Homo sapiens: one gene and its partners. The protein of the gene in region 3 purifies or fractionates together with the protein of the main gene of each other region. This does not show direct contact. Each region holds a gene or a part of one and is shown on either strand. Other genes may lie near its edges.

Region 1 (7,754 bases), on a different chromosome or scaffold from region 3:
GTGAAGTGGTTCATTCAAATAAGAGTAGAACTAAATAAAAAACAAGAAAAAAGTTGTAAATGTTGATCATATGCATTAATGCTACACATGTAAGAAAAAAGACATAAAAATAAGTTTTTGGCTAAATAGCACCTTTATTTTCCCTAACAAATCTTAGTTCAATTCTGAAGCCTCTTATTTTTATCATAAAAGCTCAAAAATAAAAGCTTGGTAAGTACTCTAAATGCATTAAGATATCCATTTTTTCATGAAGATTTTTTTTAAATTGCTTACCTTAAGAGATCGATGAACTCTTTTTGATTTTAAATCCCAAATATTAACAGTGTTATTTAGGCCTCCGCTTACCAAATACATAGATGTAGAATTTAAATTGACACATGTCTGCTTTTGCTATTTAAAAAAAAAAAAAAAAGTTACCTTAATTTAACAGAGCCCAGAGCTGACTTTCAGGTCTCATCCAACACTTAGTAAGCATATGATAAATATTGGTTAAATTAAATACTATAAACATGCTAATCTTGTACTAAAGAGCCACTCTCTCATCGTCTTTCTTCCACATGGATCCAACAGCTTTTAAGGGGGTCAAAAATGCTTCAAGGAAATCAAATAGATTTGCATTCACTTCTGTGGACCGGTGACGACACAGGAAGCTTAGAAAACACTGGCAGTCCTGGTCTCCCATCAGGGCTTGTTTGCCCATCCTATCTCCTCTTGATAAAGCCTGCTCTTGTATTTCCACAGAATATCCTACATTAAAATCAATCCCCAGCTCAAAAATGCTAAAAATAGAAGAGACTTTAAAAGAATTTCCAGTGTACAGCCCTCATTTTACCGATGGGATAAGTTTTTTTTTAAAGAAGTCAAGATACTTGCCCTAAGTCTTCCAGCAAATCTCCGTTAAGGAGACCAAGTCTCAGACATCAGGTCATCAAAGCCTGACTTCAACTGTTCCCCATCTCTGTAAAGACACCATCCAGTTTCTCAAGATAAAAACCCAGAATAACCCTTGATTTCTTGTTCTCCCTCCCCTCCAATCTATCAGTAAGCTCTCTAAACTCCAACCCAAGAATGAATCCCACATGGGCTCCCCTTTATCTATAGCTACTACTAACACTAACCCAAACCTTACCAAACTACGACAGCAGCTTCCTAACTGGTTTCCCTGTTTCCACTCCTGCTCTCCTATATTCCATCCTTCATAAGTAGGGTGGACTTTAAAAATGTAAATCAGATCATGTCTCCTTCCATACCCAAATGACTATAAATCATGCTGCTATAAAGACACATGCACACGTATGTTTATTGCGGCATTACTCACAATAGCAAAGACTTGGAACCAACCCAAATGTCCAACAATGATAGACTGGATTAAGAAAATGTGGCACATATACACCATGGAATACTATGCAGCCATAAAAAATGATGAGTTCATGTCCTTTGTAGGGACATGGATGAAATTGGAAACCATCATTCTCAGTAAACTATCGCAAGAACAAAAAACCAAACACCGCATATTCTCACTCATAGGTGGGAATTGAACAATGAGATCACATGGACACAGGAAGGGGAATATCACACTCTGGGGACTGTGGTGGGGAGGGGGGAGGGGGGAGGGATAGCATTGGGAGATATACCTAATGCTAGATGACGAGTTAGTGGGTGCAGCGCACCAGCATGGCACATGTATACGTATGTAACTAACCTGCACAATGTGCACATGTACCCTAAAACTTAAAGTATAATTTAAAAATAATAATAATAATAATAATAATAATAATAAATCTTCAACGGCTTCCAATCACACCAAGAATAAACTCCAAACATTTACCTGGCTTTCAAAGTCCTATTATTTGGGCCCTACCTCATCTGTTACCATTTTCTTCCTCATCCACTAATTCTCCAGCCATACTGACCTTCCATTCCTTAAATATACAACCCTATATTTGCCTCAAGGCTTCTACACAGCTATTCTCCTTGCCTAGAAAGCTAAATTCACTGAACCCTGTTTGGAAGACTTTCTGGTCAACAGATATCAACTTAAGTGCCACCACACTTCAAGGGACCTCCATTGGCTACCTAATGTAACTTGCTATCACAATATCTTATTTTAGTTATCTGCATGATAACTTACCAATATCTGGGTATTTTTTGTTTACTAGTTTACTGCCTGTCCCCCGCCAGAATGTCAGTTTCACTAGCACAAGGCCCATATCCATGCTCCATCTTTATAGAATGGCTAAAATACAGATGTTGTCAAGTTCTTCTCAGTGAGTATCTTTGAGTGTCACCAATTTGGTGGTGCCATCAGTAACTATGCTATACAGAACAGTGTTGCATTTTTTTCCTAAGTAACCTTTAGATGCACTACGAAGTCACATTAGTTGGAACTTCCACAGTGCATCCTTGGATTCTTCAAATTCAAAGGAGACATTTCATGACTTCAAGAAAAGTTAAAAGGCAAGCTATGTAGGTTTAGGCAAATCATCTCACCTTTCTGAGCCTATGCTTCTGCATTTGAGAAACGAAAGGTGAAGACTAGATCTACTGTTCTTACTTTGAGAATCCATGCTTCTCAGAAATATCCTCTGCTCAAAAGAGATTCTTTAAAGGGTGCATATGATCCCCTTCCTCTAGCCCTTCCCCCATTGCACGTTCAAATACTATAAACATGCTAATCTTGTACTAAAGAGCCACTCTCTTACTGTCTTTCTTCCACATGGATCCAACGGCTTTTAAGGGGGTCAAAAATGCTTCAAGGAAATCAAATAGATTTGTGTTCACTTCTGTGGACCCCAGGGTTCCTTCTAGCTCTAAAATTTTGACCAAGAGTATCAACTAACATATAAAAATAGCAAGATGCACACAACATCAATGTTTCAGTATAGTTGCTGTAATTCTCCTGCAGATACCATTCTAGGAATTGACTTTAGTTGAGGGAGACTAAGAAGCTTTAGAATCTGGTTGTCACTGCAAATCAGGACAGTTTGCTAAGAACTATCAAAACAGCCTTTAAATAAAATAGAAAAAGATGGTGTCCATTGAAGATCAATATATTGGGACTCCAATCATCACAACAACTACAATTACTCTTAAGGGCTCAAAATAAAAATTATATTTAGAGCTGGCTAACCCTGTTGATAGGTCTTTTTTATGATAATGTATTATTAATGCAACTAATGAACTTAAATAATTAATGGAAATTGTGTGGTTATTACAGGAATCCTGAACTGCTCAAGGTGCAAGGCAAAGGTACATTCTACTTTAAAGAGGTGAAATACAAAATCAAAGAAAATAAATATGAACTTAAAGTTCTACTCTAAAATTTTAAAATCAGTAAGATCATAATTTATTTTCTCAAGTAGAAAAGGTCTAATGCCTCAAATAATACACGAGTAAGAGGACTTGGAAGTTACAAAAAGGTTATTAGCACATTAATATGTTTCTGTAAACATTACTAGTAAAAGCTAAAAAACCAATGTTTCCAAATATTTTCATAACTAAATTAAAATAGATTGAAAATTTGAACTCAACTAATCTTACTTTTATCCAACAGCATTATGATACAATTTGTTAACTATGGGAAAGAGGGCTAAGAATCATAGCAACTAATTTGGAATATTCACAAAACTCTTAGAATTATGTCACACTTGTAAATACCATCTGTTATTTTTATACTTTAAAAAAAAAGCTCCCAAATACTGATTCACTGATCCTAAGGCATAATGCATAACAGTAGTACATATATATAGTGGTAGAGTAGAAGTTGAAATTGTTTTGATGTTGACATTAACAAGTTTTTTGAACATCTTAGGATACAAAGATCCAAAGATGGTTAAGATGTTTTGCCTGCTCTTGAAGACTTCAGTCTGCCTTTATCGACCAGAGACATTCTATGCCTTGATTCTGCTTAAGTCAGGTTAAACAGAGTGCCTCAAACTCCATTTCTACTGTTAGCACATGTTCCCTCTGTCCCAGTCTCCAACATCTGTGGGTTAGAACTGAAGTTCAGGTCAATCCCACTGGATACCTTTAGGAGAGGATTGATAAAAATCATGAGTCCTCTTTAAATTAGTTGAGCTTTTATTCAGTTGTCCTGCTGTTTTCTTTCTAATTGGGCTACTTTACCTATCCCAGTGTGTAAAATTATGACAATTCATAATAATTTAAGATCTGCTAGAAAAACTTTGAAATTAAAAAAAAAAGCTATCAACTACCATATCTTTTTATTTAAATCTTATCTTATTTAAAAAAGAAATAGCTTTCAAAGAGTGTGTGACTAGAAATGAAGAAGCCAGTATTATCCTTAATCAGAGGGATTAACTTATAAAACAAAAGGATAGGCTGGGTGTGGTGGCTCATGCCTGTAATCCCAGCACTTTGGGAGGCTGAGGCGGGCGGATCATGAGGTCAGGAGTTCAAGACCAGCCTGGCCAACATGGTGAAACCCCGTCTCTACTAAAAATACAAAAATTAGCCAGGCGTGGTGGTGGGCACCTGTAATCCCTGCCACTTGAGAGGCTGAGGCAGGAGAATCGCTTGAACTGGGGAGGCGGAGGTTGCAGTGAGCTAAGATTGCACCATTGCACTCCAGCCTGGGCAACAGAGCGAGACTCCATCTCAAAAGAAAAAAAAAAAAGGATAAGGCAACAGTACGTAGTGAGAGCTTCATTTAAACGCCCTGGGACCTAAGCTCATTTTGACAAAGCCAACCTGTTTAAGGAGAGTATGGGGGAGGCTCAGACAGGCCCCTCAGTACAGGTGGACAGAATCTGAAGCAGAGAGCTACCATCAGCTGTGAGTCTGTTCCTGATGGTCCTGAGCCCAAGATCAGTAAAGCAGTGCTGTGTCATTAGAGTTTATATGCTCAGGTCAACCTAGTAACCTATGTGGGATATCGTCCTAAAATAGCAGCAACAGAGATCCTCTCCCACTGAGGGAAAATGGAGAAATGAAGTGCCTAGTCAACAAAATTCAAGTCTTCAATTGTTCCCCTATATTCAAAACTATTTTACCTAAAAATACTTTAGTAAGTACACATATCTCATTTTTAAGTGTTACTATATTATTTTGAGCTTAAGTTAAAAATAATGCTTTTAAAAACCTTTATATTTAGTCGCAAGCACCACAATAAGCAATTGCCAGTCAAGCAAAACTAAGATTTTTAAAAGTTTAAAAAAAAAAAAAATCACTTACCCCTTCAGCAAGCTCTAAAAGTGGAACAGGTTTACATTTGCAACTTGAGACAACTATTTTGTCGCCACTGGAAGATGCTGTTACTAAAAAGTTATCTAAATGAGGAGTTATGGAGCATCAAACAATCCATGAACATCTATAGCACTAGACTATTATAAGAATTGCGATTATAAAAGCTAACACACTAAGAAGACAAGCAATGAGTATAGCTTACAGAGTAGCTTTCAAAAATGGCTCACATTACTATTAATAATTACTAAGACTAATTCTCTTTGCTACTACTGCAGGGAAGAACTAGCCTTCTTTCTGGCTCTGCTATCACTCAAAAGCTATTTAACCCACGTGAAATACTACTCTGTTTTCAAAGAGTAGGCCAGAAGGGCTAATTTTATCCTTCAAGAATGAGAGCATGATAAAAGCAGCATCAGCAAATATCAATCAACCTTTTCATCTACAGAAACTGTTCAAGATATTTATTAACCTAGTGCTTGGTAACAATCTAAACTAGGAAGCAAACATCCACACTAGTCTCCTATTTTTCTATTTAAAAAAAAAAAAGGCCTGATATTTTCCCAGAACATGAATTTTTGTGATAGAATGTTTCAATCTTAAATTAAGAATGACTATTACAGTAACTTGCAAATATTTTATAAATATGTATGGTTAAATAGGAATTGTGTTATGAGTTTTAATTTTTAAATAAAATGTAATTTTATTTACCTTCTTTTACACGAATTGTAAATGGAACAATCAGTAAACACAAAACAGTAACTATTTTAAAACTAAAATGATTAAATACAATAATATAACTAAGAATAAGAGTCTGATTTTGAGAGCCATAACAAATTAAAATATCAGAAGTTTAAATCTGTGCTTTTTAGCAATTAAAATCTGTGAGTAAAAGCAATGGAGAAAGGTTAATTAGACACTCAGAATCCCTAACTGCATTAACTTTTGAATGTTCTGTATAACTTTCAGGTATTTTGTAAACAGAGCATAGACTGTAATTTTATTATGATACATGATGCAAATCAAATCATTCCTACCTAGATATTACCATAGCGAGAAAAACCATTTCCCTTTCCTTGACTTCTTCCTGTTTACCACTACTTTTCTCCTTAGAATATAGAAAAAAAAGGACTGAAACATAATGTGGGTGGGTAATCTAGTTCTTTTTTATTTCTCTTGTAGTTTTAGAAATCATGAGAAAGTGAGGAACGTAAGTTAAAGGACAAGAAACAAAAAACTAATCTCTCTGGTGTCTCACATTAACCCCATTCTTGGAATCTATACTATGTGGACCCCAAGTTGCTAAGGCTGGGAACTCCTTGTTCTTCAGTAATTAACCTCCATGGAAGTGATCAAAGCCTTATTAAGAATAAGACTGTATGAAGGCTTTCAGTGCACATCTGCTCATGCAAGAAAACTGTAAGACCAATTTCCAAAAGTCATACAACACTATCTCATAGCTACATCAGTTTTGTTGTTAGACTATTAAGTAGCACATCAGTAAATGCCAACTCCTAGTAAAACTTAAAACAAAAGTCAACCAAAAAATAATCTTACTACAAATTGCTACCTTTCTCTTATATAGTAAGAGGGAAAATTAAGCTCTAAACATAATGAAAATCTAAAAATAGAGAACAGCAACTTCATATACTTGTCGCTCTCTTTAAAATATTTTCCCTATTACACATCTGGAAAGTCCTTCAAAAATGTAGTCACTTCACCATGAGTTTGATTAACAGAGTACCAAAGTAATTTGTTTTACTGCAAAATCAAGGAATGATAAGGAGGTAAATTTAATTCAGTAAGAAAATTTGTCCTTCTTGTTATATACATGCAAGAATAGTAAGTCATATAAAACTTTTAATATTTTTGTTCCTGAACCAGTCACATTTTAAAGCTTTGATTTTTTTATCAGAAAGTAGAATACTTTGGTGTTGATAAAAATCAGATAAATGTTAAATCTTAATTTGTTAAGAAATAGCGTATGAGTTTCACAAAAGAAAATTTCTAACATACCAATTACATAAAACATTTTCACATAAAAGGTGATAGGAGCACTGTGGTCACAGCAGTGGTTCTCTACTGGGAGTGATTCAGGCAATTCTGGAAACGTTTTGGGTTGTCACAACTAGAGGCTATTGGTACCTAACGGGTGAAGACCAATAAACCTCCACGTGGTACAACATACAGGAAAGGTCCACAACAAATTTTCTGCCCCAAAAAGTCAATAGCACAGGGTTCAGAAACCCTAGTTTACAGTCTTCACTCCCTCATTTTATTTTATCCACATTGAGGAGCTCACCAAGACAGGGAAGGTGTCAATCAGAAACATAAAAAGCTTAGAAAAGTTCAATCTAGGTAACTTTACTATGTCTGTTTAGGAAATGTAATTTTCATCACACACACAGAGAGGAAGGAAGATATGGAGAGTACATTAGTAAGATGGAGATATTGGGCAATTTTTTATCTCCTCCCCAACTTGCTTCTGCCTTCAAGTTCTGTCTTTAATTTTCAGTTCAGATCCACAAATACCCAAATGTAGATGCAAAAAC
Region 2 (7,754 bases), on a different chromosome or scaffold from region 3:
AAAATGTGACAGTTTGCTTTGGAGGAGTGGGGCTACCAATTTAGGCTACAATTCCTTTTACAATGATCTCTGGTATTCTCAAAGTTGGTAACAGTTGGTAACAACATGTCATATAGGCTTTAGGCCTAGTTTTTTAATGAAGACATTTCTTTTTAATTATTTCATTTCCATGTTATTTGGGAAAGCTATAAATCAGAAGTATTATACATTAAGGCAAATATGATTTTATAAATGTAAAATGTGTTTTGTGAATAAATAGTATTTCAGACATATACCTGACATACTTTTACATTCTTTCAAGTTCATGAAATTTACATTTATTAATATGTAACTAAGGCTAATTTGTTTTAATTCAGGGGAATCTACATTGATAGTAATACAGTGCAGCACAGTGTCTAAGAGCAAGAACTTTGGGGCCCTGAGTTGGTTCACTCTAGGGCTTGCTTTGAGGAAGGTTTTCAATCCCGCTGAGCCTCGTTTTCCTCATTTTCCAAGTGGGAATGATACCAGGACTGAGATTGTATCCTATCTAAGCATAGTGCCTGACAAGTGTTCTCAGCTACTTCTCAGCACTGCTCCCCACCCTGCACCATGTATTGCATGATACATTGCCTTCTTTTTATGCAAGAGCAGCTGAGTACCTAGATTCAGGGAATTTCAGTTAGACTGAATGGAGCTATTTTCATCCATTTCCTATTACGTTTTGGTTTATATAGGTTTTTTTGTTTGTTTGTTTTGAGACAGAGTCCTTGCTCTGTCGCCCAGGCTGGAGAGCAGTTGATGCAGGATTTTTCTCAACCCCTTTGTCATACTTGCGACAGAGGTGCGCTGCTTACTTGGCCACTGTGCTCAACTGTTTGCGGGAGGGAGCACATGAACGAGCAATTGCAGGATCCATGCAGCGGCACCCAGGTGGGGGTGCCTGCGACTCCAAAGCCCCTGAGGGCATGTTAGAGTGCTCTCTTAGTTCTGCCGTCCACGGACAGCGGTGTGTTATCAGCTCAGTTGGCCCCTTGCCTCATAGTGTGGGGTAGCTGCCCTCCGCCAGTGAGGGCAAAGGGCCAGTGTAACAGCCTTATTTTGGGTACCCACACTCGGTGTGTCCCGAGCTCTTGTCCAGTGTTCAAGAAGAATGAGGTCACCTGGACACTTGAAGGATGGTGAAGGCAGAGAGTTTTATTAAGTGATGGAAATGGCTCTCAGCAGAGAGGGGAACTGGAGTGGGGGTGGGACGGGTAGGTAATCTTCCCCTGAAGTCCGGCCATCTCTTCCCTGAAGTTAAGCCATCTCTCCTCCGAAGTCCAGTCATCCCTTTGAAGTCAAGTTGCCTCTCTCCCCTCTACTACCTGGGTCTGGAGTCTTTAAAGGCACAACATGGGAGGAGTGGGCAGGGTGGGCTGTGGGTAGTTTTGGAAAAGGCAACAATCGATTGGTAAAAAGACATTATTTAGAAAGAACCAGTTGGGCTGGGCGTGGTGGCTCATGCCTGTAATCCCAGCACTTTGGGAGGCTGAGGTGGGCAGATCACGAGGTCAGAAGATCAAGACCATCCTGACCAACATGGTGAAACCCCATCTCTACTAAAAATACAAAAAAATTAGCTGGGTGTGGTGGTGCGCACCTGTAGTCCCAGCTACTCAGGAGGCTGAGGCAGTAGAATCACTTGAATCCAGGAGGCGGAGGTTGCAGTGAGCCGAGATTGCGCCACTGCACTCCAGCCTGGCGACAGAGTGAGACTCCATCTCAAAAAAAAAGAAAGAAAGAACCAATTGGGAGAGAGTGGGCAAGCAGGAATAGAAGTTCTCACTTTGGCCTGTGGGTTTCAGGCTTTTCAGCTCAAAGGTTGGGTTTCACTGGGGACCCACCCTTGTCTGCCTAGAATTTCTCTGCCTCCTGCCTCTATCACAGCGGCGCGATCTTGGCTTACTGCAATCTCTGCTGCCCGCGTTCAAGTGATTCTCGCGCCTCAGCCTCTTGAGTAGCTGGGATTACAGGTGTGAGCCAGGGTGTCTGGCTGTGTTTTATATATTAATAGTTTTTAATCTTATGTAGTACCTTTCATACTATCCTGATAGTACAACCAGTGTTTCTATTTTATTTTATAGGGATGACATTTTAACTATTTAAAAATGTTAAAAAATTGTTTTTAAAAACCACCAAAATATTATTTGACTAAAACAACTAAAGAAAATTAATGATATATAACAGTCTGTCACTTTCCAAATATAAAGTGTCTAATTTATTACTTTGTTATCTCACATTACAGACAATGTGCCCTGTGTGTCTAGATCGTCTGAAGAATATGATTTTCCTTTGTGGTCACGGAACCTGTCAACTCTGTGGAGACCGCATGAGTGAATGTCCTATCTGTCGCAAGGCTATTGAACGAAGGATTCTTTTGTATTAACTAAGACACATGGTGTATTTTGTTAGCTAATGTATCTAGTCATGAGATCTTAATAGGCTTTTGATCTAGTTGGAAGTTCTGATGAGTTAATTTCTAATATCATAGTTTCTTTACTAGAGTATAATTGGGCTGTAAATGTACCAGAACAAAAAACCCTACAAAATGGTGTTGGAAATTGTGTTTTTTGTTTTTGTTTTAAATTTGAAACATCAAATTCATGTAACTCATAGGATAATTTACCTTTGGCTTCTAAGAGGAAAGTCCTTTAAGGATATCCTTTTTTAAAAAATTGCATTTTTCTCTTATAATTTGTAAATTTGTTGGATCTCAAAAGACATAATTCTTTGTGATCAGTTATCCTTCATTTCATCGTGGTTTTACACAGTGAGTTGATAACAGGTTCTCTGAGAAGTCATGCATCAAATAAAAGAGGCAGGTCAAACAATTATGTCACATGGTAAATTATAAAATGACAGTACAAGTTCCAGATAGTTAAGGGAATACCGAAGGGATGATTCTTTTTTTAAGATAACAGGAAGTTACCCACATGTTTGTTTCTGAATTCTTAGAGTAAATGGAAGCATAGAATGAGGGAATAATGACTTTGCATTTCTCTTGTTTTCTAGATTCAAAAGGAACATTGTTTAACTTGAATCAGATTACCAGTTTCAAGGTGACTGATAGACAAGAAAAGGAAAAATAAGCAATAATAGTGGGCAACTGAAGAGAAAAAAAAAACGAGTATCTATTAACTGGCCACTAACAGTTGCCTTTCTTACATTAATTTATACACTATTTTGTTCAGCCAGTGTTTTTAAAAAAAATCTATGAAAAGTGTACTTCCGGTTTTCTGTGATTACTTATCTGGGCTTGATCTGACCAGTGAAATGACATTGCCCTATTTGGACCTCTGAGGTTCTATTTAGCTTTGCAGATGTACATAGTATCCCAGTGATCTGCAAAATTAATGCCTTTTCCAAGAAAAAATCTTTTCTTCTCTGTATCAGTTAATTCTGACAGTGTTAGTGATTCTGTCTTCATTATAGGCCTTATTTCCATTATCTCTTTCTTTATAGTATTTTTTGTTATAAAGAAAACAGTCTTTCTGTGTATACCTACGGATGAGGGTATTATTTAAACTGCCAACAATATCCAAGACATGGTCAATAACCTAATTATAAATACTTTAGAAAGAGTGACCAGGACATGTATAGAAATGTCTGCTTACCTGTAGACTTTAAAAACAAACAAAATTTTTGGAGCATTTAATCATTTTTTTTCTCCTTTTATCTCCTTTGTAATCTTATTGTCTCCTGAGTAAATATACACATAAATGTTTGGGGATTCATTGCTGCTAGATTATATCAGGTGTTTACATAGTGTCTACTATATGCTGTTGATAAGCTTTTTCCTAAAAATAGTTATCCTCTTTTGTAGTTTTTTTCCCTCCTTTAAATCTGGCTAGCTTTTCTTACTTCAGTTTTTATAGAACACCAACTAAATTTGAAAGTATGAAGTCTCTAGCCCTCTTACACTGTTTCTGGCTGTTTAATCCTTGCTGCCTTTGCAAGTCCTGGTGAAAGCAATGGGGAGCTTTGCTGGCTGGTTTTGTAGTCTCAACAATTCCATGTCTGTGTTTAGCTGAGTAACTGCTATCATTTAGAACAGTAAAATTTTTATAGATTTCAAATTTGAAAATTCATGTACACTCAGTTATCTAATAAGGGGCCACCGACGCTGTTTTTAAAACTATTTTGAAGTTATAAAAAGGTAGAACATCTGACTGATGATGTTCACATAAAGAGACAGACAGACTATCATGTTGCAGACATGAAAACAGCATGTCAGGTTTTTCCTTTCCTTCCATGCCATGGGCTACCCATCTCTTCCCACTAGATCACCTGGTGAGGAGGGAGCACCTGGCTGACTCATGCAGAGTTTGGCCAATCAGAGAATTGTGTGGTCTCCAGCTCTACTTTCCTTAAACAAATCCTTTCTGTTTTCTGAGCTGCAGTGCTAAAACAGATCCCTAAAAGGTAATAGCATCTTCCAGACTAGTTTAATTATTTCCTTTATAAGAATATGACATAAATTTTTATTATAGAAATAATGTCATTATAATTTTAGTGCTAGTACTTGTGGGTTTTCTGTATTTGTATCACCTTGAAATTTGTTCCATGAATAGAAAATACTTCTTTATTCATGTTTTCAATCACTTAGAATTATTTTAAATTTATTTTGGGTTTGTGAGAGATAATAAGATTAAGAACTTCATCATTTCAGTGACTTTCCTCCAACTCTCTGAATCTGCTACCTCTTATTATATGTCCCTTAGCAGTACTTTTCCAGTTAGGTTCGTTACCCTGCTCATTAGCTAAACCTCTTTATCTTGTGCCTCAAAAGAGCTTTTACTTTTCTTAGAAACATTTATAAAAAAGAAAAAAACTGACACGCATTCATTCAAAAAAGTATTTATTGGGCTTTAGGGATTAGATACACAACAGTGGAAAAATGGCATCTTAGCACACTCAGAATTTATTGTGCAGCAGTTGTGTATTTTAAGGAATCTGTAGTTAAAAGGAAGAGATCCAAAGGTCCTGATAACATTTCCTAACGTTTCAGAAGAGTTGTCATTGAGTAGTGTTTGGATTTCCTCTCTGTATCCCTCACCCTACCATTTTCTCCTTTATTCTTCTAAGATTGTTAGCGTTGTTACTCAAAACATACACATACAACATACCAGATGGTGCTGTTCTAATGGTATTTGTTCACGTAATTTAACGTTCTTACTGCTTATACTATATACATATTTAATTTTGTTGGGAGCAAGAAGGTTTTCAAGAAAAGATAATTTTGTATTAGTGTAGGAATATATTAGACAAATGTTTAGTTGGTCAAATTATGCATAAGATATTTGTAACTTTAAACATTGCAAATTGACCAGCTAGCTATGGAAGCATAAAATTAATTGATAATTAATGTTGGAAATACATTTCTAAAATTTATATTTTTATGGTGTTAGCCTGTAAGAGCATTTTAGCATATTGAAATGCATGCTGCTTAAGATGTGTCTGGTTCAAATATCAAAACTTGCTGGGTCATTTTTACATAGTAGAAACATACTGTCTATGTGTTGCCCAATTGCTGTTTGTCCACTCTGAATTCTGGACCCTTTTTGGACTAAGAATTAGTTAAATTCATGAACTAAGAGAATTAGAGATGGGGTAGAGTAGGATCAGGACAGTGGGGTTACAACAGATAGGAAAGGAAAGTCAGCATTTGAGTGTAGAGAAAAAAAGAGGATCATACAGATGTCATCAAATTATAGGCTTTAATACAGGTTGCTTTTTTTAATCCAAAAGGAAAAGCACTTATCCTATCAGAATGTCTACCATGTTTTATAGTAATAATTTGTGTAAAAAATTGAATTTTTGAATAGTTTTTTGTATTTTTTGTGATGAAAAACTCATAACATAAAATTTACCATATTAACTGTTTCTAAAGAATACAGTTCAGCCATGTGAAGTACATTTACACTGTTGTGAAGCAGATCTCCAGAACTTTTTCATCTTGCAAAACTGAAACTCCATACCCATTAAACAACTCCCCTTTTTGTTTTCTCCTCAGTGGAATAGAATTTTGACTCCATATAAATCAAGAAACACCTAAATTCTTTAGTTGTTTGTGTTTGCAAGATCTAAGGTCATGGTAAACATTAAGTTCTTAAAATTTTTGGGAGGGACAGTGCACCTCTCCTCTGAATTGTTAGCAATTAAATTGAGTAGGTTTTAAATGTCTATTCATTGGAAGGGTTTGTTATTTCATTTTGAGCCAGAGGGGAGAGGCACATTTTAAATATCAGAATTAGATTAGCTTTGAGTTTGTACAATTGGGAACATAATAGATTTTCATAAATTATGTGTGCCTTGTTGGAAGTGTCAACTGTCTTTATGTCTGCTTGTAAAAGTTTCAAAATATGTTTTCCCTCAAAAAGGCAACGTTACTTCATTTGCTTGAATATTATGATAGGAATGCTTACTGATATTACTTGATAGTCATATATAGCCTAGGAAATTTAACATATATATAACTATAGCAGTATTAATAATGATAGTTGTACTTCTTTAAAACATTAAATTTGAGGAAACTTTAATGCTGTCTCGTGTACATTGCTTTACTACAGTGAGGGGGAATATCCTTTAGATTGAGCCTCAATTTACTGGTTAGTAGTATGTGAAACTCTGGTATAAAAACGTAAACTAGACAGTAGAGCCGATGAATTAAAATTGTAAATTGCTACATTGGCATTTTCTACCTCCTTTTCTGTCAGAGTATTACTTTTTCCAGCATTTATTCTTATTTGTGAGTAAAGAGGAAATGGGAACCTGAGGTTAAAATTGACATTTTTGTTTCATTGAGAATTTAAGCAGTAGGTACAGGAGAAGTGACTTGTCACATTAATTTGGTGCCTAAATCTGTAACTACAAGTTGTGATCGACATGTACAAAATGTCTAAGAAAGGTCATATGCTGAATATTTTACTTTTCCTGTATAGTCTGCATGATTTGTTTCATAAACCCAGCTTATTTCCTCCAAAAAGCAAAATGGTCCTGTAATTTTTAAAGTAAAATAAACGTGCCATTTTGTCTGCAATCTATAATTTCAGGAAGTTATTGAAAGTTCTGACTCAGGGCTTTTTAACAGTTCAAGCAATTGTCAGTTATATTTTGGAAACTCCATCTGTGTAATTCTCCAGTGCCTTGAAAGAATTATTAACTTGGCAACACTATTAAAACTTTATAAAAGATGGTCTTTAGTGCACGTGTATCATTATATACACGTTTTAAAGTCATATTGCTTAGCTTGTTAATAATGATTCTGCATGTGTGCTGGGTTTGGGTAATTCTTTAAAGGAAGTTTTCTAGATTTGCACTTGATGTTTGTTTTTTAAAAACTGATTATTTATGGCCGTGACACTGTTACCAGAAAAGTAATTCTAATTAAGTTATTATGCAAAGTCATCTATAAGTAGCATCTGGGAAGAGGAGATCGAGGCCACAGTTTGCTATTTTAGTATGAAAGGAGGATCTGTTTGGGAAACATAGATTGTCTTCCCCTCAAATGAGGGGAAAAAAAAAAGACCCTTTGTTCAAATGGATTCTGTTGTAAAAAATTATTTTTAAAGGAAATCACAAATTGTATGTCATTCTTAATGCTAGTCTTATAGAATAAATCCATAAAATTGTTTTTATGTTCAGTATGTTTATGTCATTCTAAATGCAGCAAATTCAATGATAGCAGTTCAATTGACTCATAGCAGTGTTTTGTATTTTTTCTAATTCTTTAG
Region 3 (7,754 bases):
TAATTTGTCCCTGATACTTTGGTGTACTGAATTTTTAAGTACTTTGAGGCCTACCGAGGACATATCCTATTTCATCTTTGCATATCCCACATCATGAATTGAATTTCCCTGCCCTCTCTTTTTTTGTTAAGAAGCTAATTATTTTAAAATGAAGACATAAAGGAACATGATTGTATTCTATTTTCTGTTTCCATAGTTCATACCCTTGCTGGTTATGATTCTGATAATGTCTTTTTATTTTCCCTTGCTTATTTAAAGGAAACAGTGCCACACATAATGCTGTGCAAATAAGCAATCAACATTTACTGTTTGCTAAATGAATGAATATGATGCCTAATCCCTCCTGGTTACCTTGTATTTTCATAATCACAATTTCCCAGAAACTGTGAAATTACTGGGATTGTTTTAAGTAGTTTGGTGATGGTTCCAATTTTCAACAATAAAATATAATTAATATCAGAGCCAATCGATTTGCTCTTTTTTACCTCTGACTGAGTTGGCTGGTGCTCATGCAGTCCAAGTATAGTGTTAAGATAGGCAAATTGAGGCAGGAGGATTGCTTGAGTCTCAGAGTTTGAGACTATAGTGCACTGTGACTGAACCTGTGAATAGTCACTGGAATCCAGTTTGGGCAACATAGTGAGACCTTGTCTCTTTAAAAAAAAAAAAAAAGATATGAGAGTAACCTCTGAACTTCAAAATAGAAAATTTTTAAAAGTAAATATTCTTTGATTTAAGTAGGCTTTTTTACTACAGTGTTTGTACCTTTGTATGATATAGTTTTTCTTGTGTAGATAAGTCCTGTTAAAGAAAATATAATATCCTGTTTTACAATGTGAAGTTAGTAAAGATTTACAGAACTTTGTTTCCTTTAAGAAGGTTTTACTGAATTCTTAGCTAAATTAATCCCATTTAAAGATTGATTTACATGCAATAATATTCAGAAATATTTAATATATAAAGTAAATCTTAATTGGACAGGTTCTTGAGGTGAATTACCATACCCAAGAATTAGCTCCTGATCAGTAAGACAATTCTGGGAGGACCAGTTATAGGAATTGTGAATTATAGGGACTCTCTCATGCTCTACAAAATCTGCCAAATAATTAAGATCTGTTTTTCCCAGTACATTAAAAATAACATTTTTCTCTCTTGTAGTGTGACTGTGGGAAGATGGAGGAGTATGAGAAGTTCTGTGAAAAAAGTCTTGCCAGAATACAAGAAGCATCACTATCCACAGAGAGCTTTCTCCCTGCTCAGTCTGAAAGTATCTCACTTATTCGCTTTCATGGAGTGGCTATCCTTTCTCCACTGGTAAACTTGCTTTGTTTTTAAATAGTTTTTTTCTGTAGTGAACAACTAAAACAGTTCGTGGAAAAACAAAAGAAAGGCTTATAAACATTTGAAGAGATGCCCTCATTCAGAATTAGAGAAATACAAATGAATTAGCATTTTTTACTTACTATTATAGATTGGCCAAGACCTAATAGAACTTTGTGTTCCTTAGATTGTGGAGAAAATGCACTTTTAATGCACTTTTGCTAAGAGAATCAGTTTATTTTATTTCTAGATGAGCAGTTTGGTAGAATTTAAAAGCATACATAGCCTTTGGGTCAGCAGTTCCATTTTTGGGTATATCCTACAATTATATGTGAGCCCAAAGAAATAAGTACAAAGTTACATTAGCATTGTTTAAAATAGCAAAGGTTGACGAACCACCTAAATGTCCATCAGTAGTGGAGTAGTTTAACTATGGTCTATTTTATAAACTCTCATACATACCATTACAGTAAGGCAGATGTAAATGTTGAGGCATGGAAGGATCTCAATGATCTAGTGTAAAACACCGTGTGCAGCATGCTGTCAGGGGCAGTATAGAGTCATGATTAGAGGTCCAGACTCTGGGCCAGGCACAGTGGCTCACACCTATAGTCCCAATGCTTTGAGAGACCGGAAGGAAGAGGATTGCTTGAGACCAGGAATTCAAGACTAGCCTGGTCAACATAGTGAGACCTCATCTCTATAAAAACATGTTAAAAAATTAGCCTGGCGCAGTGACATGTGCCTGTAGTCCCAGCTCTTCAAAGGCTAAGGCGGAAGGATCGCTTGAACCTAGGAGTTGCAGGCTGCAGTGAGTCAGGATTGCATCATTGCCTGGACTACAGAGAAAGACCCTATCCCAAAAGAAGGAAAAAAACTCCAGCCTGGGCTAACAGAGCAAGACCCTATCCCAAAAGAAGGAAAAAAAAAGTCTAGGCTGTGGAGCCTTCTGGCCTGGGTCCAAATCATTGCTTTGCTACTTACTTGCTGTGTAAACTTGTGGTCCATTTTCTTATTTGTTAAATGGGGATAAAATAGTGCCTACCTCATAAGGCTATTTTGAAGATTAAATGAATTCGTAGATATAAAATGGTTAGAATACCACCTGGATCATAAGAGGTACCCAATATAAGTTAACCATTTGGGTTTTTCAAAGGATGGCTATTCCTTTTCTGGGGAGTGGTGAGAGAATATAGGATAATAGGGAAGACACTTCATCATACACCCTTTGATACTAATTGGATATTTTAAAAATGCATATGACTTTATTTTAAATCACAAACTAATATTAGAAAAAAGTGAGCTTTAAATTTATTTTTTGGTATAACAGGAGTTAAGAGATTAATTTTAATTAATTGAATTGAATTTTTAAAGACACCAGAGCTAACTGCCAACTTTTTGTAATGAAACTTTCAAACATACAGCAAAGTTGAAAGGATAGTGCAGTGACCACCCATAGATTTACCATTAGATTAAATAATTTTTAACATTGTTGTCATCTTTGCTTTATTGTGTTTGTGATTTTTATATACATCTATGTGTGTGTGTACATATGACATTTTTAAAAATTGCCTAGCTATTTGAAAACCACGGAGACCTGACACTGCTCCCCTAAATATTTTGGTGTACATCTCTTAAAAATAAGGACATTCTCCTATGTAAAGCCCCAATACCATTATCACATCTTAAGAAAACTAATAATTTTTAATAATATCTAATAATTCTGTTCATATTTAAATTTTTCCATTTGTGCTCAAAATGCCTTTTATAACTTTATTCCCCCAATCTGGATCCAAAGTTCACAATTAGTATTTGCTTGTTATGTTTCTTTATTTTAATCTAAAATAGCTACTGTACGTCTTAAAAACAGTTTTTTTTATTGGTTGAGCATGGTGCCTCACGCCTATAATCCCAGCACTTTGGGAGGCTGAGGTGGGTGGATTGCATTGCTTGATCCCCAGAGTTTGAGACCAGTCAGGGCAACGTGGTGAAATCTCATCCCTACAAAAAATACAAAAAAGAGCTGGGTGTGGTGGCGCGCACCAGGAGTCTCAGCTGCTCTAGAGGCTGAGGTGGGAGGATCACCTGAGCCCGGGAGGCTGAGGCTGCGGTGAACCCTGATCATGCCACTGCACTCCAACCTGGGTGACAGAGTGAGATACTGTCTTTAAAAAAATAACAAAACTATGATACTGAATTTTTAAAGAGACCAGAGCTATTGTCTTGTAGAATTCCTTAGATCTTGGATTTGTCCCATTGTTTCCTAATAGTGTTATTTAACTTGTTTCTCTAGTCCCTGTAGTTCCTATGAACTGGAAGTGAAGTTTGATAAACAGGTTAAAGATTTTTGGAATTCTTTGAAGATAGGGCTGGGCGGGGTGGCTCATGCCTGTAATCCCAGCACTTTGGGAGGCTGAGACCAGCCTGGCCAACATGACGAAACCCCGTCTCTACTAAAAATACAAAAATTAGCTGGGCGTGGTGGTGGATGCCTGTAATCCCAGCTATGTGGGAGGCTGAGGCAGGAGGATCCCTTGAACCCAGGAGGCGAAGGTTGCAGTGAGCCAAGATCCACTGAACCCAGTAGGCAAAGGTAGTGAGCCGAGATCGAGCCACTGCACAACAGCCTGGGCAACAGAGTGAGACCCTCTCTCAAAAAAAAAAAATGTAATCCCAGCACTTTGGGAGCCCGAGATGGGTGTATCACTTGAGGTCAGGAGTTCGAGACCAGCCTGGCCAACATGGCGAAACCCCTTGTCTACTAAAAATATAAAAATTAGCTAGGCATGATGGTGGGTGCCTGTAATCCCAGCTGTGCGTTAGGCCGAGGCAGGAGAATCGCTTGAACCCAGGAGGGATCGGGATCGCACCACTGTACTCCAACCTGAGACTCCATCTCAAAAAAAAAAGGAATTCTTTGGAGATGATGCCCTGCACTTCATACTAAATTAAATCAGAAGTTACATAATGTTTAGTTGCCCTCTATTAGTGATGTTTAGTTTGAACACTTGCTTACAGTAGTGACTGCCAGATGGCTCTTTAAAGTACACATTTTCTCCTTTTGATTAGCAAGTAAATTGTATAATCATTCTTTGGTACCATGCAATTAGGAAAAAGTTTTAAAACAACATATTTATCAGCTATTTGATAACACATTGCTTGATTTAATGTGGACCAAAATGTCTGAGGCTTGTTGTGTAGGGTCTATGACTCCGTCTGTTATTTATTTATAAGCAAAATGTGATGTTTATGGACCTAATCCACACTTTTATGTTGTATTTGATAGGTGAATATTGCAACTTTTGAAATAATTTTTTAATGATATATTTTCTATTTGTGTAAGTCTACGATAAGTCTTGACTGTTAACAGTGATTTAATTTCCCAGGACTTAATAATTAAGATTGAAATCCATTATAAAGAGATACAATGCTTAGAAGCCTTCCATTTTTTAGGTACATTATATTTTTATCAGAAGGTAGAGTGAGGTGAAAGAAAAGATGTATTCTGCTTTTGTAGGCAAATAATATATTATCTGTTTATTTTATCATTAAACCTTTGGACATTTTTTGAGGCAGCAAAGAGTTAAATTGTGCACTGGTTAGAAAATTAAAAGTTGTAGAATCCAGTTGATCCAGTGAAATAAGATACTGAAGATGGGCCAGGCGCGGTGGCTCGCGCCTGTAATCCCAGCACTTTGGGAGGCCGAGGTGGGCAGATCACAAAGTCAGGAGTTCGAGACCAGCCTGACCAACATGGTGAAACCCCATCTCTACTAAAAATACAAAAATTAGCTGGGCGTGGTGGCACGCGCCTGTAAGCCCATCTACTCCGGAGGCTGAGGCAGGAGAATCGCTTGAACCCAGGAGGCGGAGGTTGCAGTGAGCCGAGATCGCACCACTGCACTCCAGCCTAGGTGACAGAGCAAGACTCCATCTCAAAAAAAAAAAAAAAAGGATACTGAATGTGAAGTAATATTCAAGTCAATATTCAAGTGAAGTAATAAAAAACTCAGCAGTGGCCAAAAGGGCCTTAATTTTATTTCTGTCATTTTAGAACATTTGATTAGTGAACAAACTTTTTTCTTTTTAACCTTTTAACTGAAAATAATTTACACATAGCAAAATGCACAAATCTTAAGTGTTAAAGTTCCATGAGTTTTGATATATGGCATACACATGTATAACTCACACCCACACAGGATTTTCTTCACCATGGAAAGATCTCTAATGCCCCATCCCACTCAGTACCCAGACCATTGTTCTGATTTCTTTCACTATACATTAGTTTTGCCTGTTGCACATGTTTTTAATCTTTCTGATTCACAACTTCCCGATTTTATGATATTTTTATCGTGGGAAATAATTACATTTTTATGATGTTTTGCAGCTTAACATTGAGAAAAGAAAGGAAATGCAACAAGAAAAGCAGAAAGCACTTGATGTAGAAGCAAGAAAGCAGGTTAACAGGAAGAAAGCTTTACTGACTCGTGTCCAGGAGATTCTTGACAATGTTCAGGTGTGTGATTTTAGCTGTTTCAGTTATAATAAAGAAATCATAAGATAAGCGTTGATGATAATTTTTCTGAAATATATTTGCACTTAACTAATTACTAATGTACTTTACTGTTACGTTTGAGAAGCTTCATAATTTGTGATTTTCCATTTCAGTTACTCCAAAGAGAATGTACTTGCTTGTTAGTAATGCCCAGTACTTGAATCAGAGGATATTTACACAATAGAACCATACACTGAATATAATTGCTTATTGTTTGCATCTTATGACTCTAAAAACATTGAATTCTCAGTGACAAAATGACAGAATTGGGTATTATTGTTTACCCCAAACTAATTAGACTATTGACTAAATGACCTTATTCTCATTCTTTGCTTAAGTAAATAACTGCCTCCAATTTTTTTTTGGTGAAAACTCTTAGATACACAAAATGCAGTTTAGATAACATTGAATTGTTTAGATGCATCCTATGTCTAAAAACTATTTAAACAACACATCTACACCTTGTGCAGTTATTTTTAGATTTGTATAAACAATTTGTTCTGACATGTGGATCATTTTGTACTAAAAAGAAAAACAAATGAATTAGATTGAACGAATAATTTCTACAACATATAGCAGTGTTCTGCTGGTAACATCTTTTTGTTTTTTCATAATCTTAGGAGTTTGTGGTTTGTCTGTTTAATTCGTATCGATGACACGTGTATAATGAACCTTAAGGGTTCATTTCTCTGTTGGTAGTGTAAACTGAAGAAAATGACTGAGGCAAGTCTCAATCGATTTAGAGGTTTGTTTTGCCAAGGTTGAGGATGTGCCAAGGAAAAAGAGACAAAAGTTACAGTAGAATCTGTGGCTTATGCTTTTCCAGAAGAGGTTTTGAGGACTTCAGTGTATAAAGGGGAGAGAACAGCAGGAGGGGAAAGAGGAAAGAAAAAAAAAGGAGGGTAGGTAATGAGATAAGCGATCACATTTTTGTGAGGCTTTGATTAGCACTCACTGAATCCACAAGTCGCATGAGAAAGGTGGGGGTAGAGGAACAGTCAGTTATGCATTCATCTCAAGCTCAATAAATCTGCATTTTACATAGGATAAAGTAAGCAGAGTAGAGGAAGAAGTCAAATATACATTTGTCTCCAAAGGGATGATTTCTAGTCATCTTTGGTCTTTGTCCGTATCTTGTCAGAGTGAAATTCAGCAGAACTCTGGGTTGGTGTAAAGATTTTGGGGCCTACGAGGAATTTCCTTGTGAGCAATTTGCAAGAGAGTCTACCTGGGTAGATAGGTGGCCTTCTATTTTGCAGCTATCTGTTTAGGAATAAAAGGAAGGCAGTTTTTGTGTGACTCAGTTCCTAAGCTTTACTTTTTCCTTTGACATGTGATTTTCCATTTCAGTTACTCGAAATCCCTATGTAATGAGTCTTCAGAATCTGATGAAAAAGTCAAAGGAATATATAGAAAGAGAACAATCTAGACGCAGGCTGAGAGGTAGTATTAAGAGAATTGTTAATGAGAGTCATAGTGACTCTCATGTGACATAGTTGAGTTTGGGGTCCTGAGATATTATTTCCCTTTCACAGTAGTATATAGTGTGTGGGTAGTAGATTTCATTTTGCAGATTATAATTACTGTCCATATTAAGTTTAAAAAATGTATTGAGTAGCACTAATTTAACAATAAGAGGTAGGTTTTTTACTTACTACGTATTTCCTGTGATTGAAATGAAAATGGCATATCATTCTTGGTCCATTGAGGGAAGATAAAATATACTACTAATAAAATTGTTAAAAGAGCATGTATAATGTTGAACTGTAATGAATTAATTATTCAGATAGGAAAATTTTATATAATACAATTAGATTTCTGCTTCACCTGTAAAACCTAAGATTCTATGATAGATTTTTTTCTTGTTGTTATTTAACTT

The links.
Region 1: the proteins of CCP110 (region 3) and NEDD1 purify together in Homo sapiens (affinity purification with mass spectrometry; 2 studies listed by BioGRID and IntAct, with this or other methods). This does not show direct contact.
Region 2: the proteins of CCP110 (region 3) and MIB1 purify together in Homo sapiens (affinity purification with western blotting; 2 studies listed by BioGRID and IntAct, with this or other methods). This does not show direct contact.

What each region holds. Positions count from the first base shown.
Region 1 is NC_000012.12:96,910,257-96,918,010, reverse strand, and holds part of NEDD1 (protein NEDD1), read right to left. Parts: intron 5,289-7,754; coding exon 5,194-5,288; intron 391-5,193; coding exon 274-390; intron 1-273. UniProt on the Homo sapiens protein: Required for mitosis progression. Promotes the nucleation of microtubules from the spindle.
Region 2 is NC_000018.10:21,862,260-21,870,013, forward strand, and holds part of MIB1 (E3 ubiquitin-protein ligase MIB1), read left to right. Parts: intron 1-2,266; coding exon 2,267-2,407; 3' UTR 2,408-7,754. UniProt on the Homo sapiens protein: E3 ubiquitin-protein ligase that mediates ubiquitination of Delta receptors, which act as ligands of Notch proteins.
Region 3 is NC_000016.10:19,526,709-19,534,462, forward strand, and holds part of CCP110 (centriolar coiled-coil protein of 110 kDa), read left to right. Parts: intron 1-1,158; 5' UTR 1,159-1,173; coding exon 1,174-1,314; intron 1,315-5,707; coding exon 5,708-5,836; intron 5,837-7,754.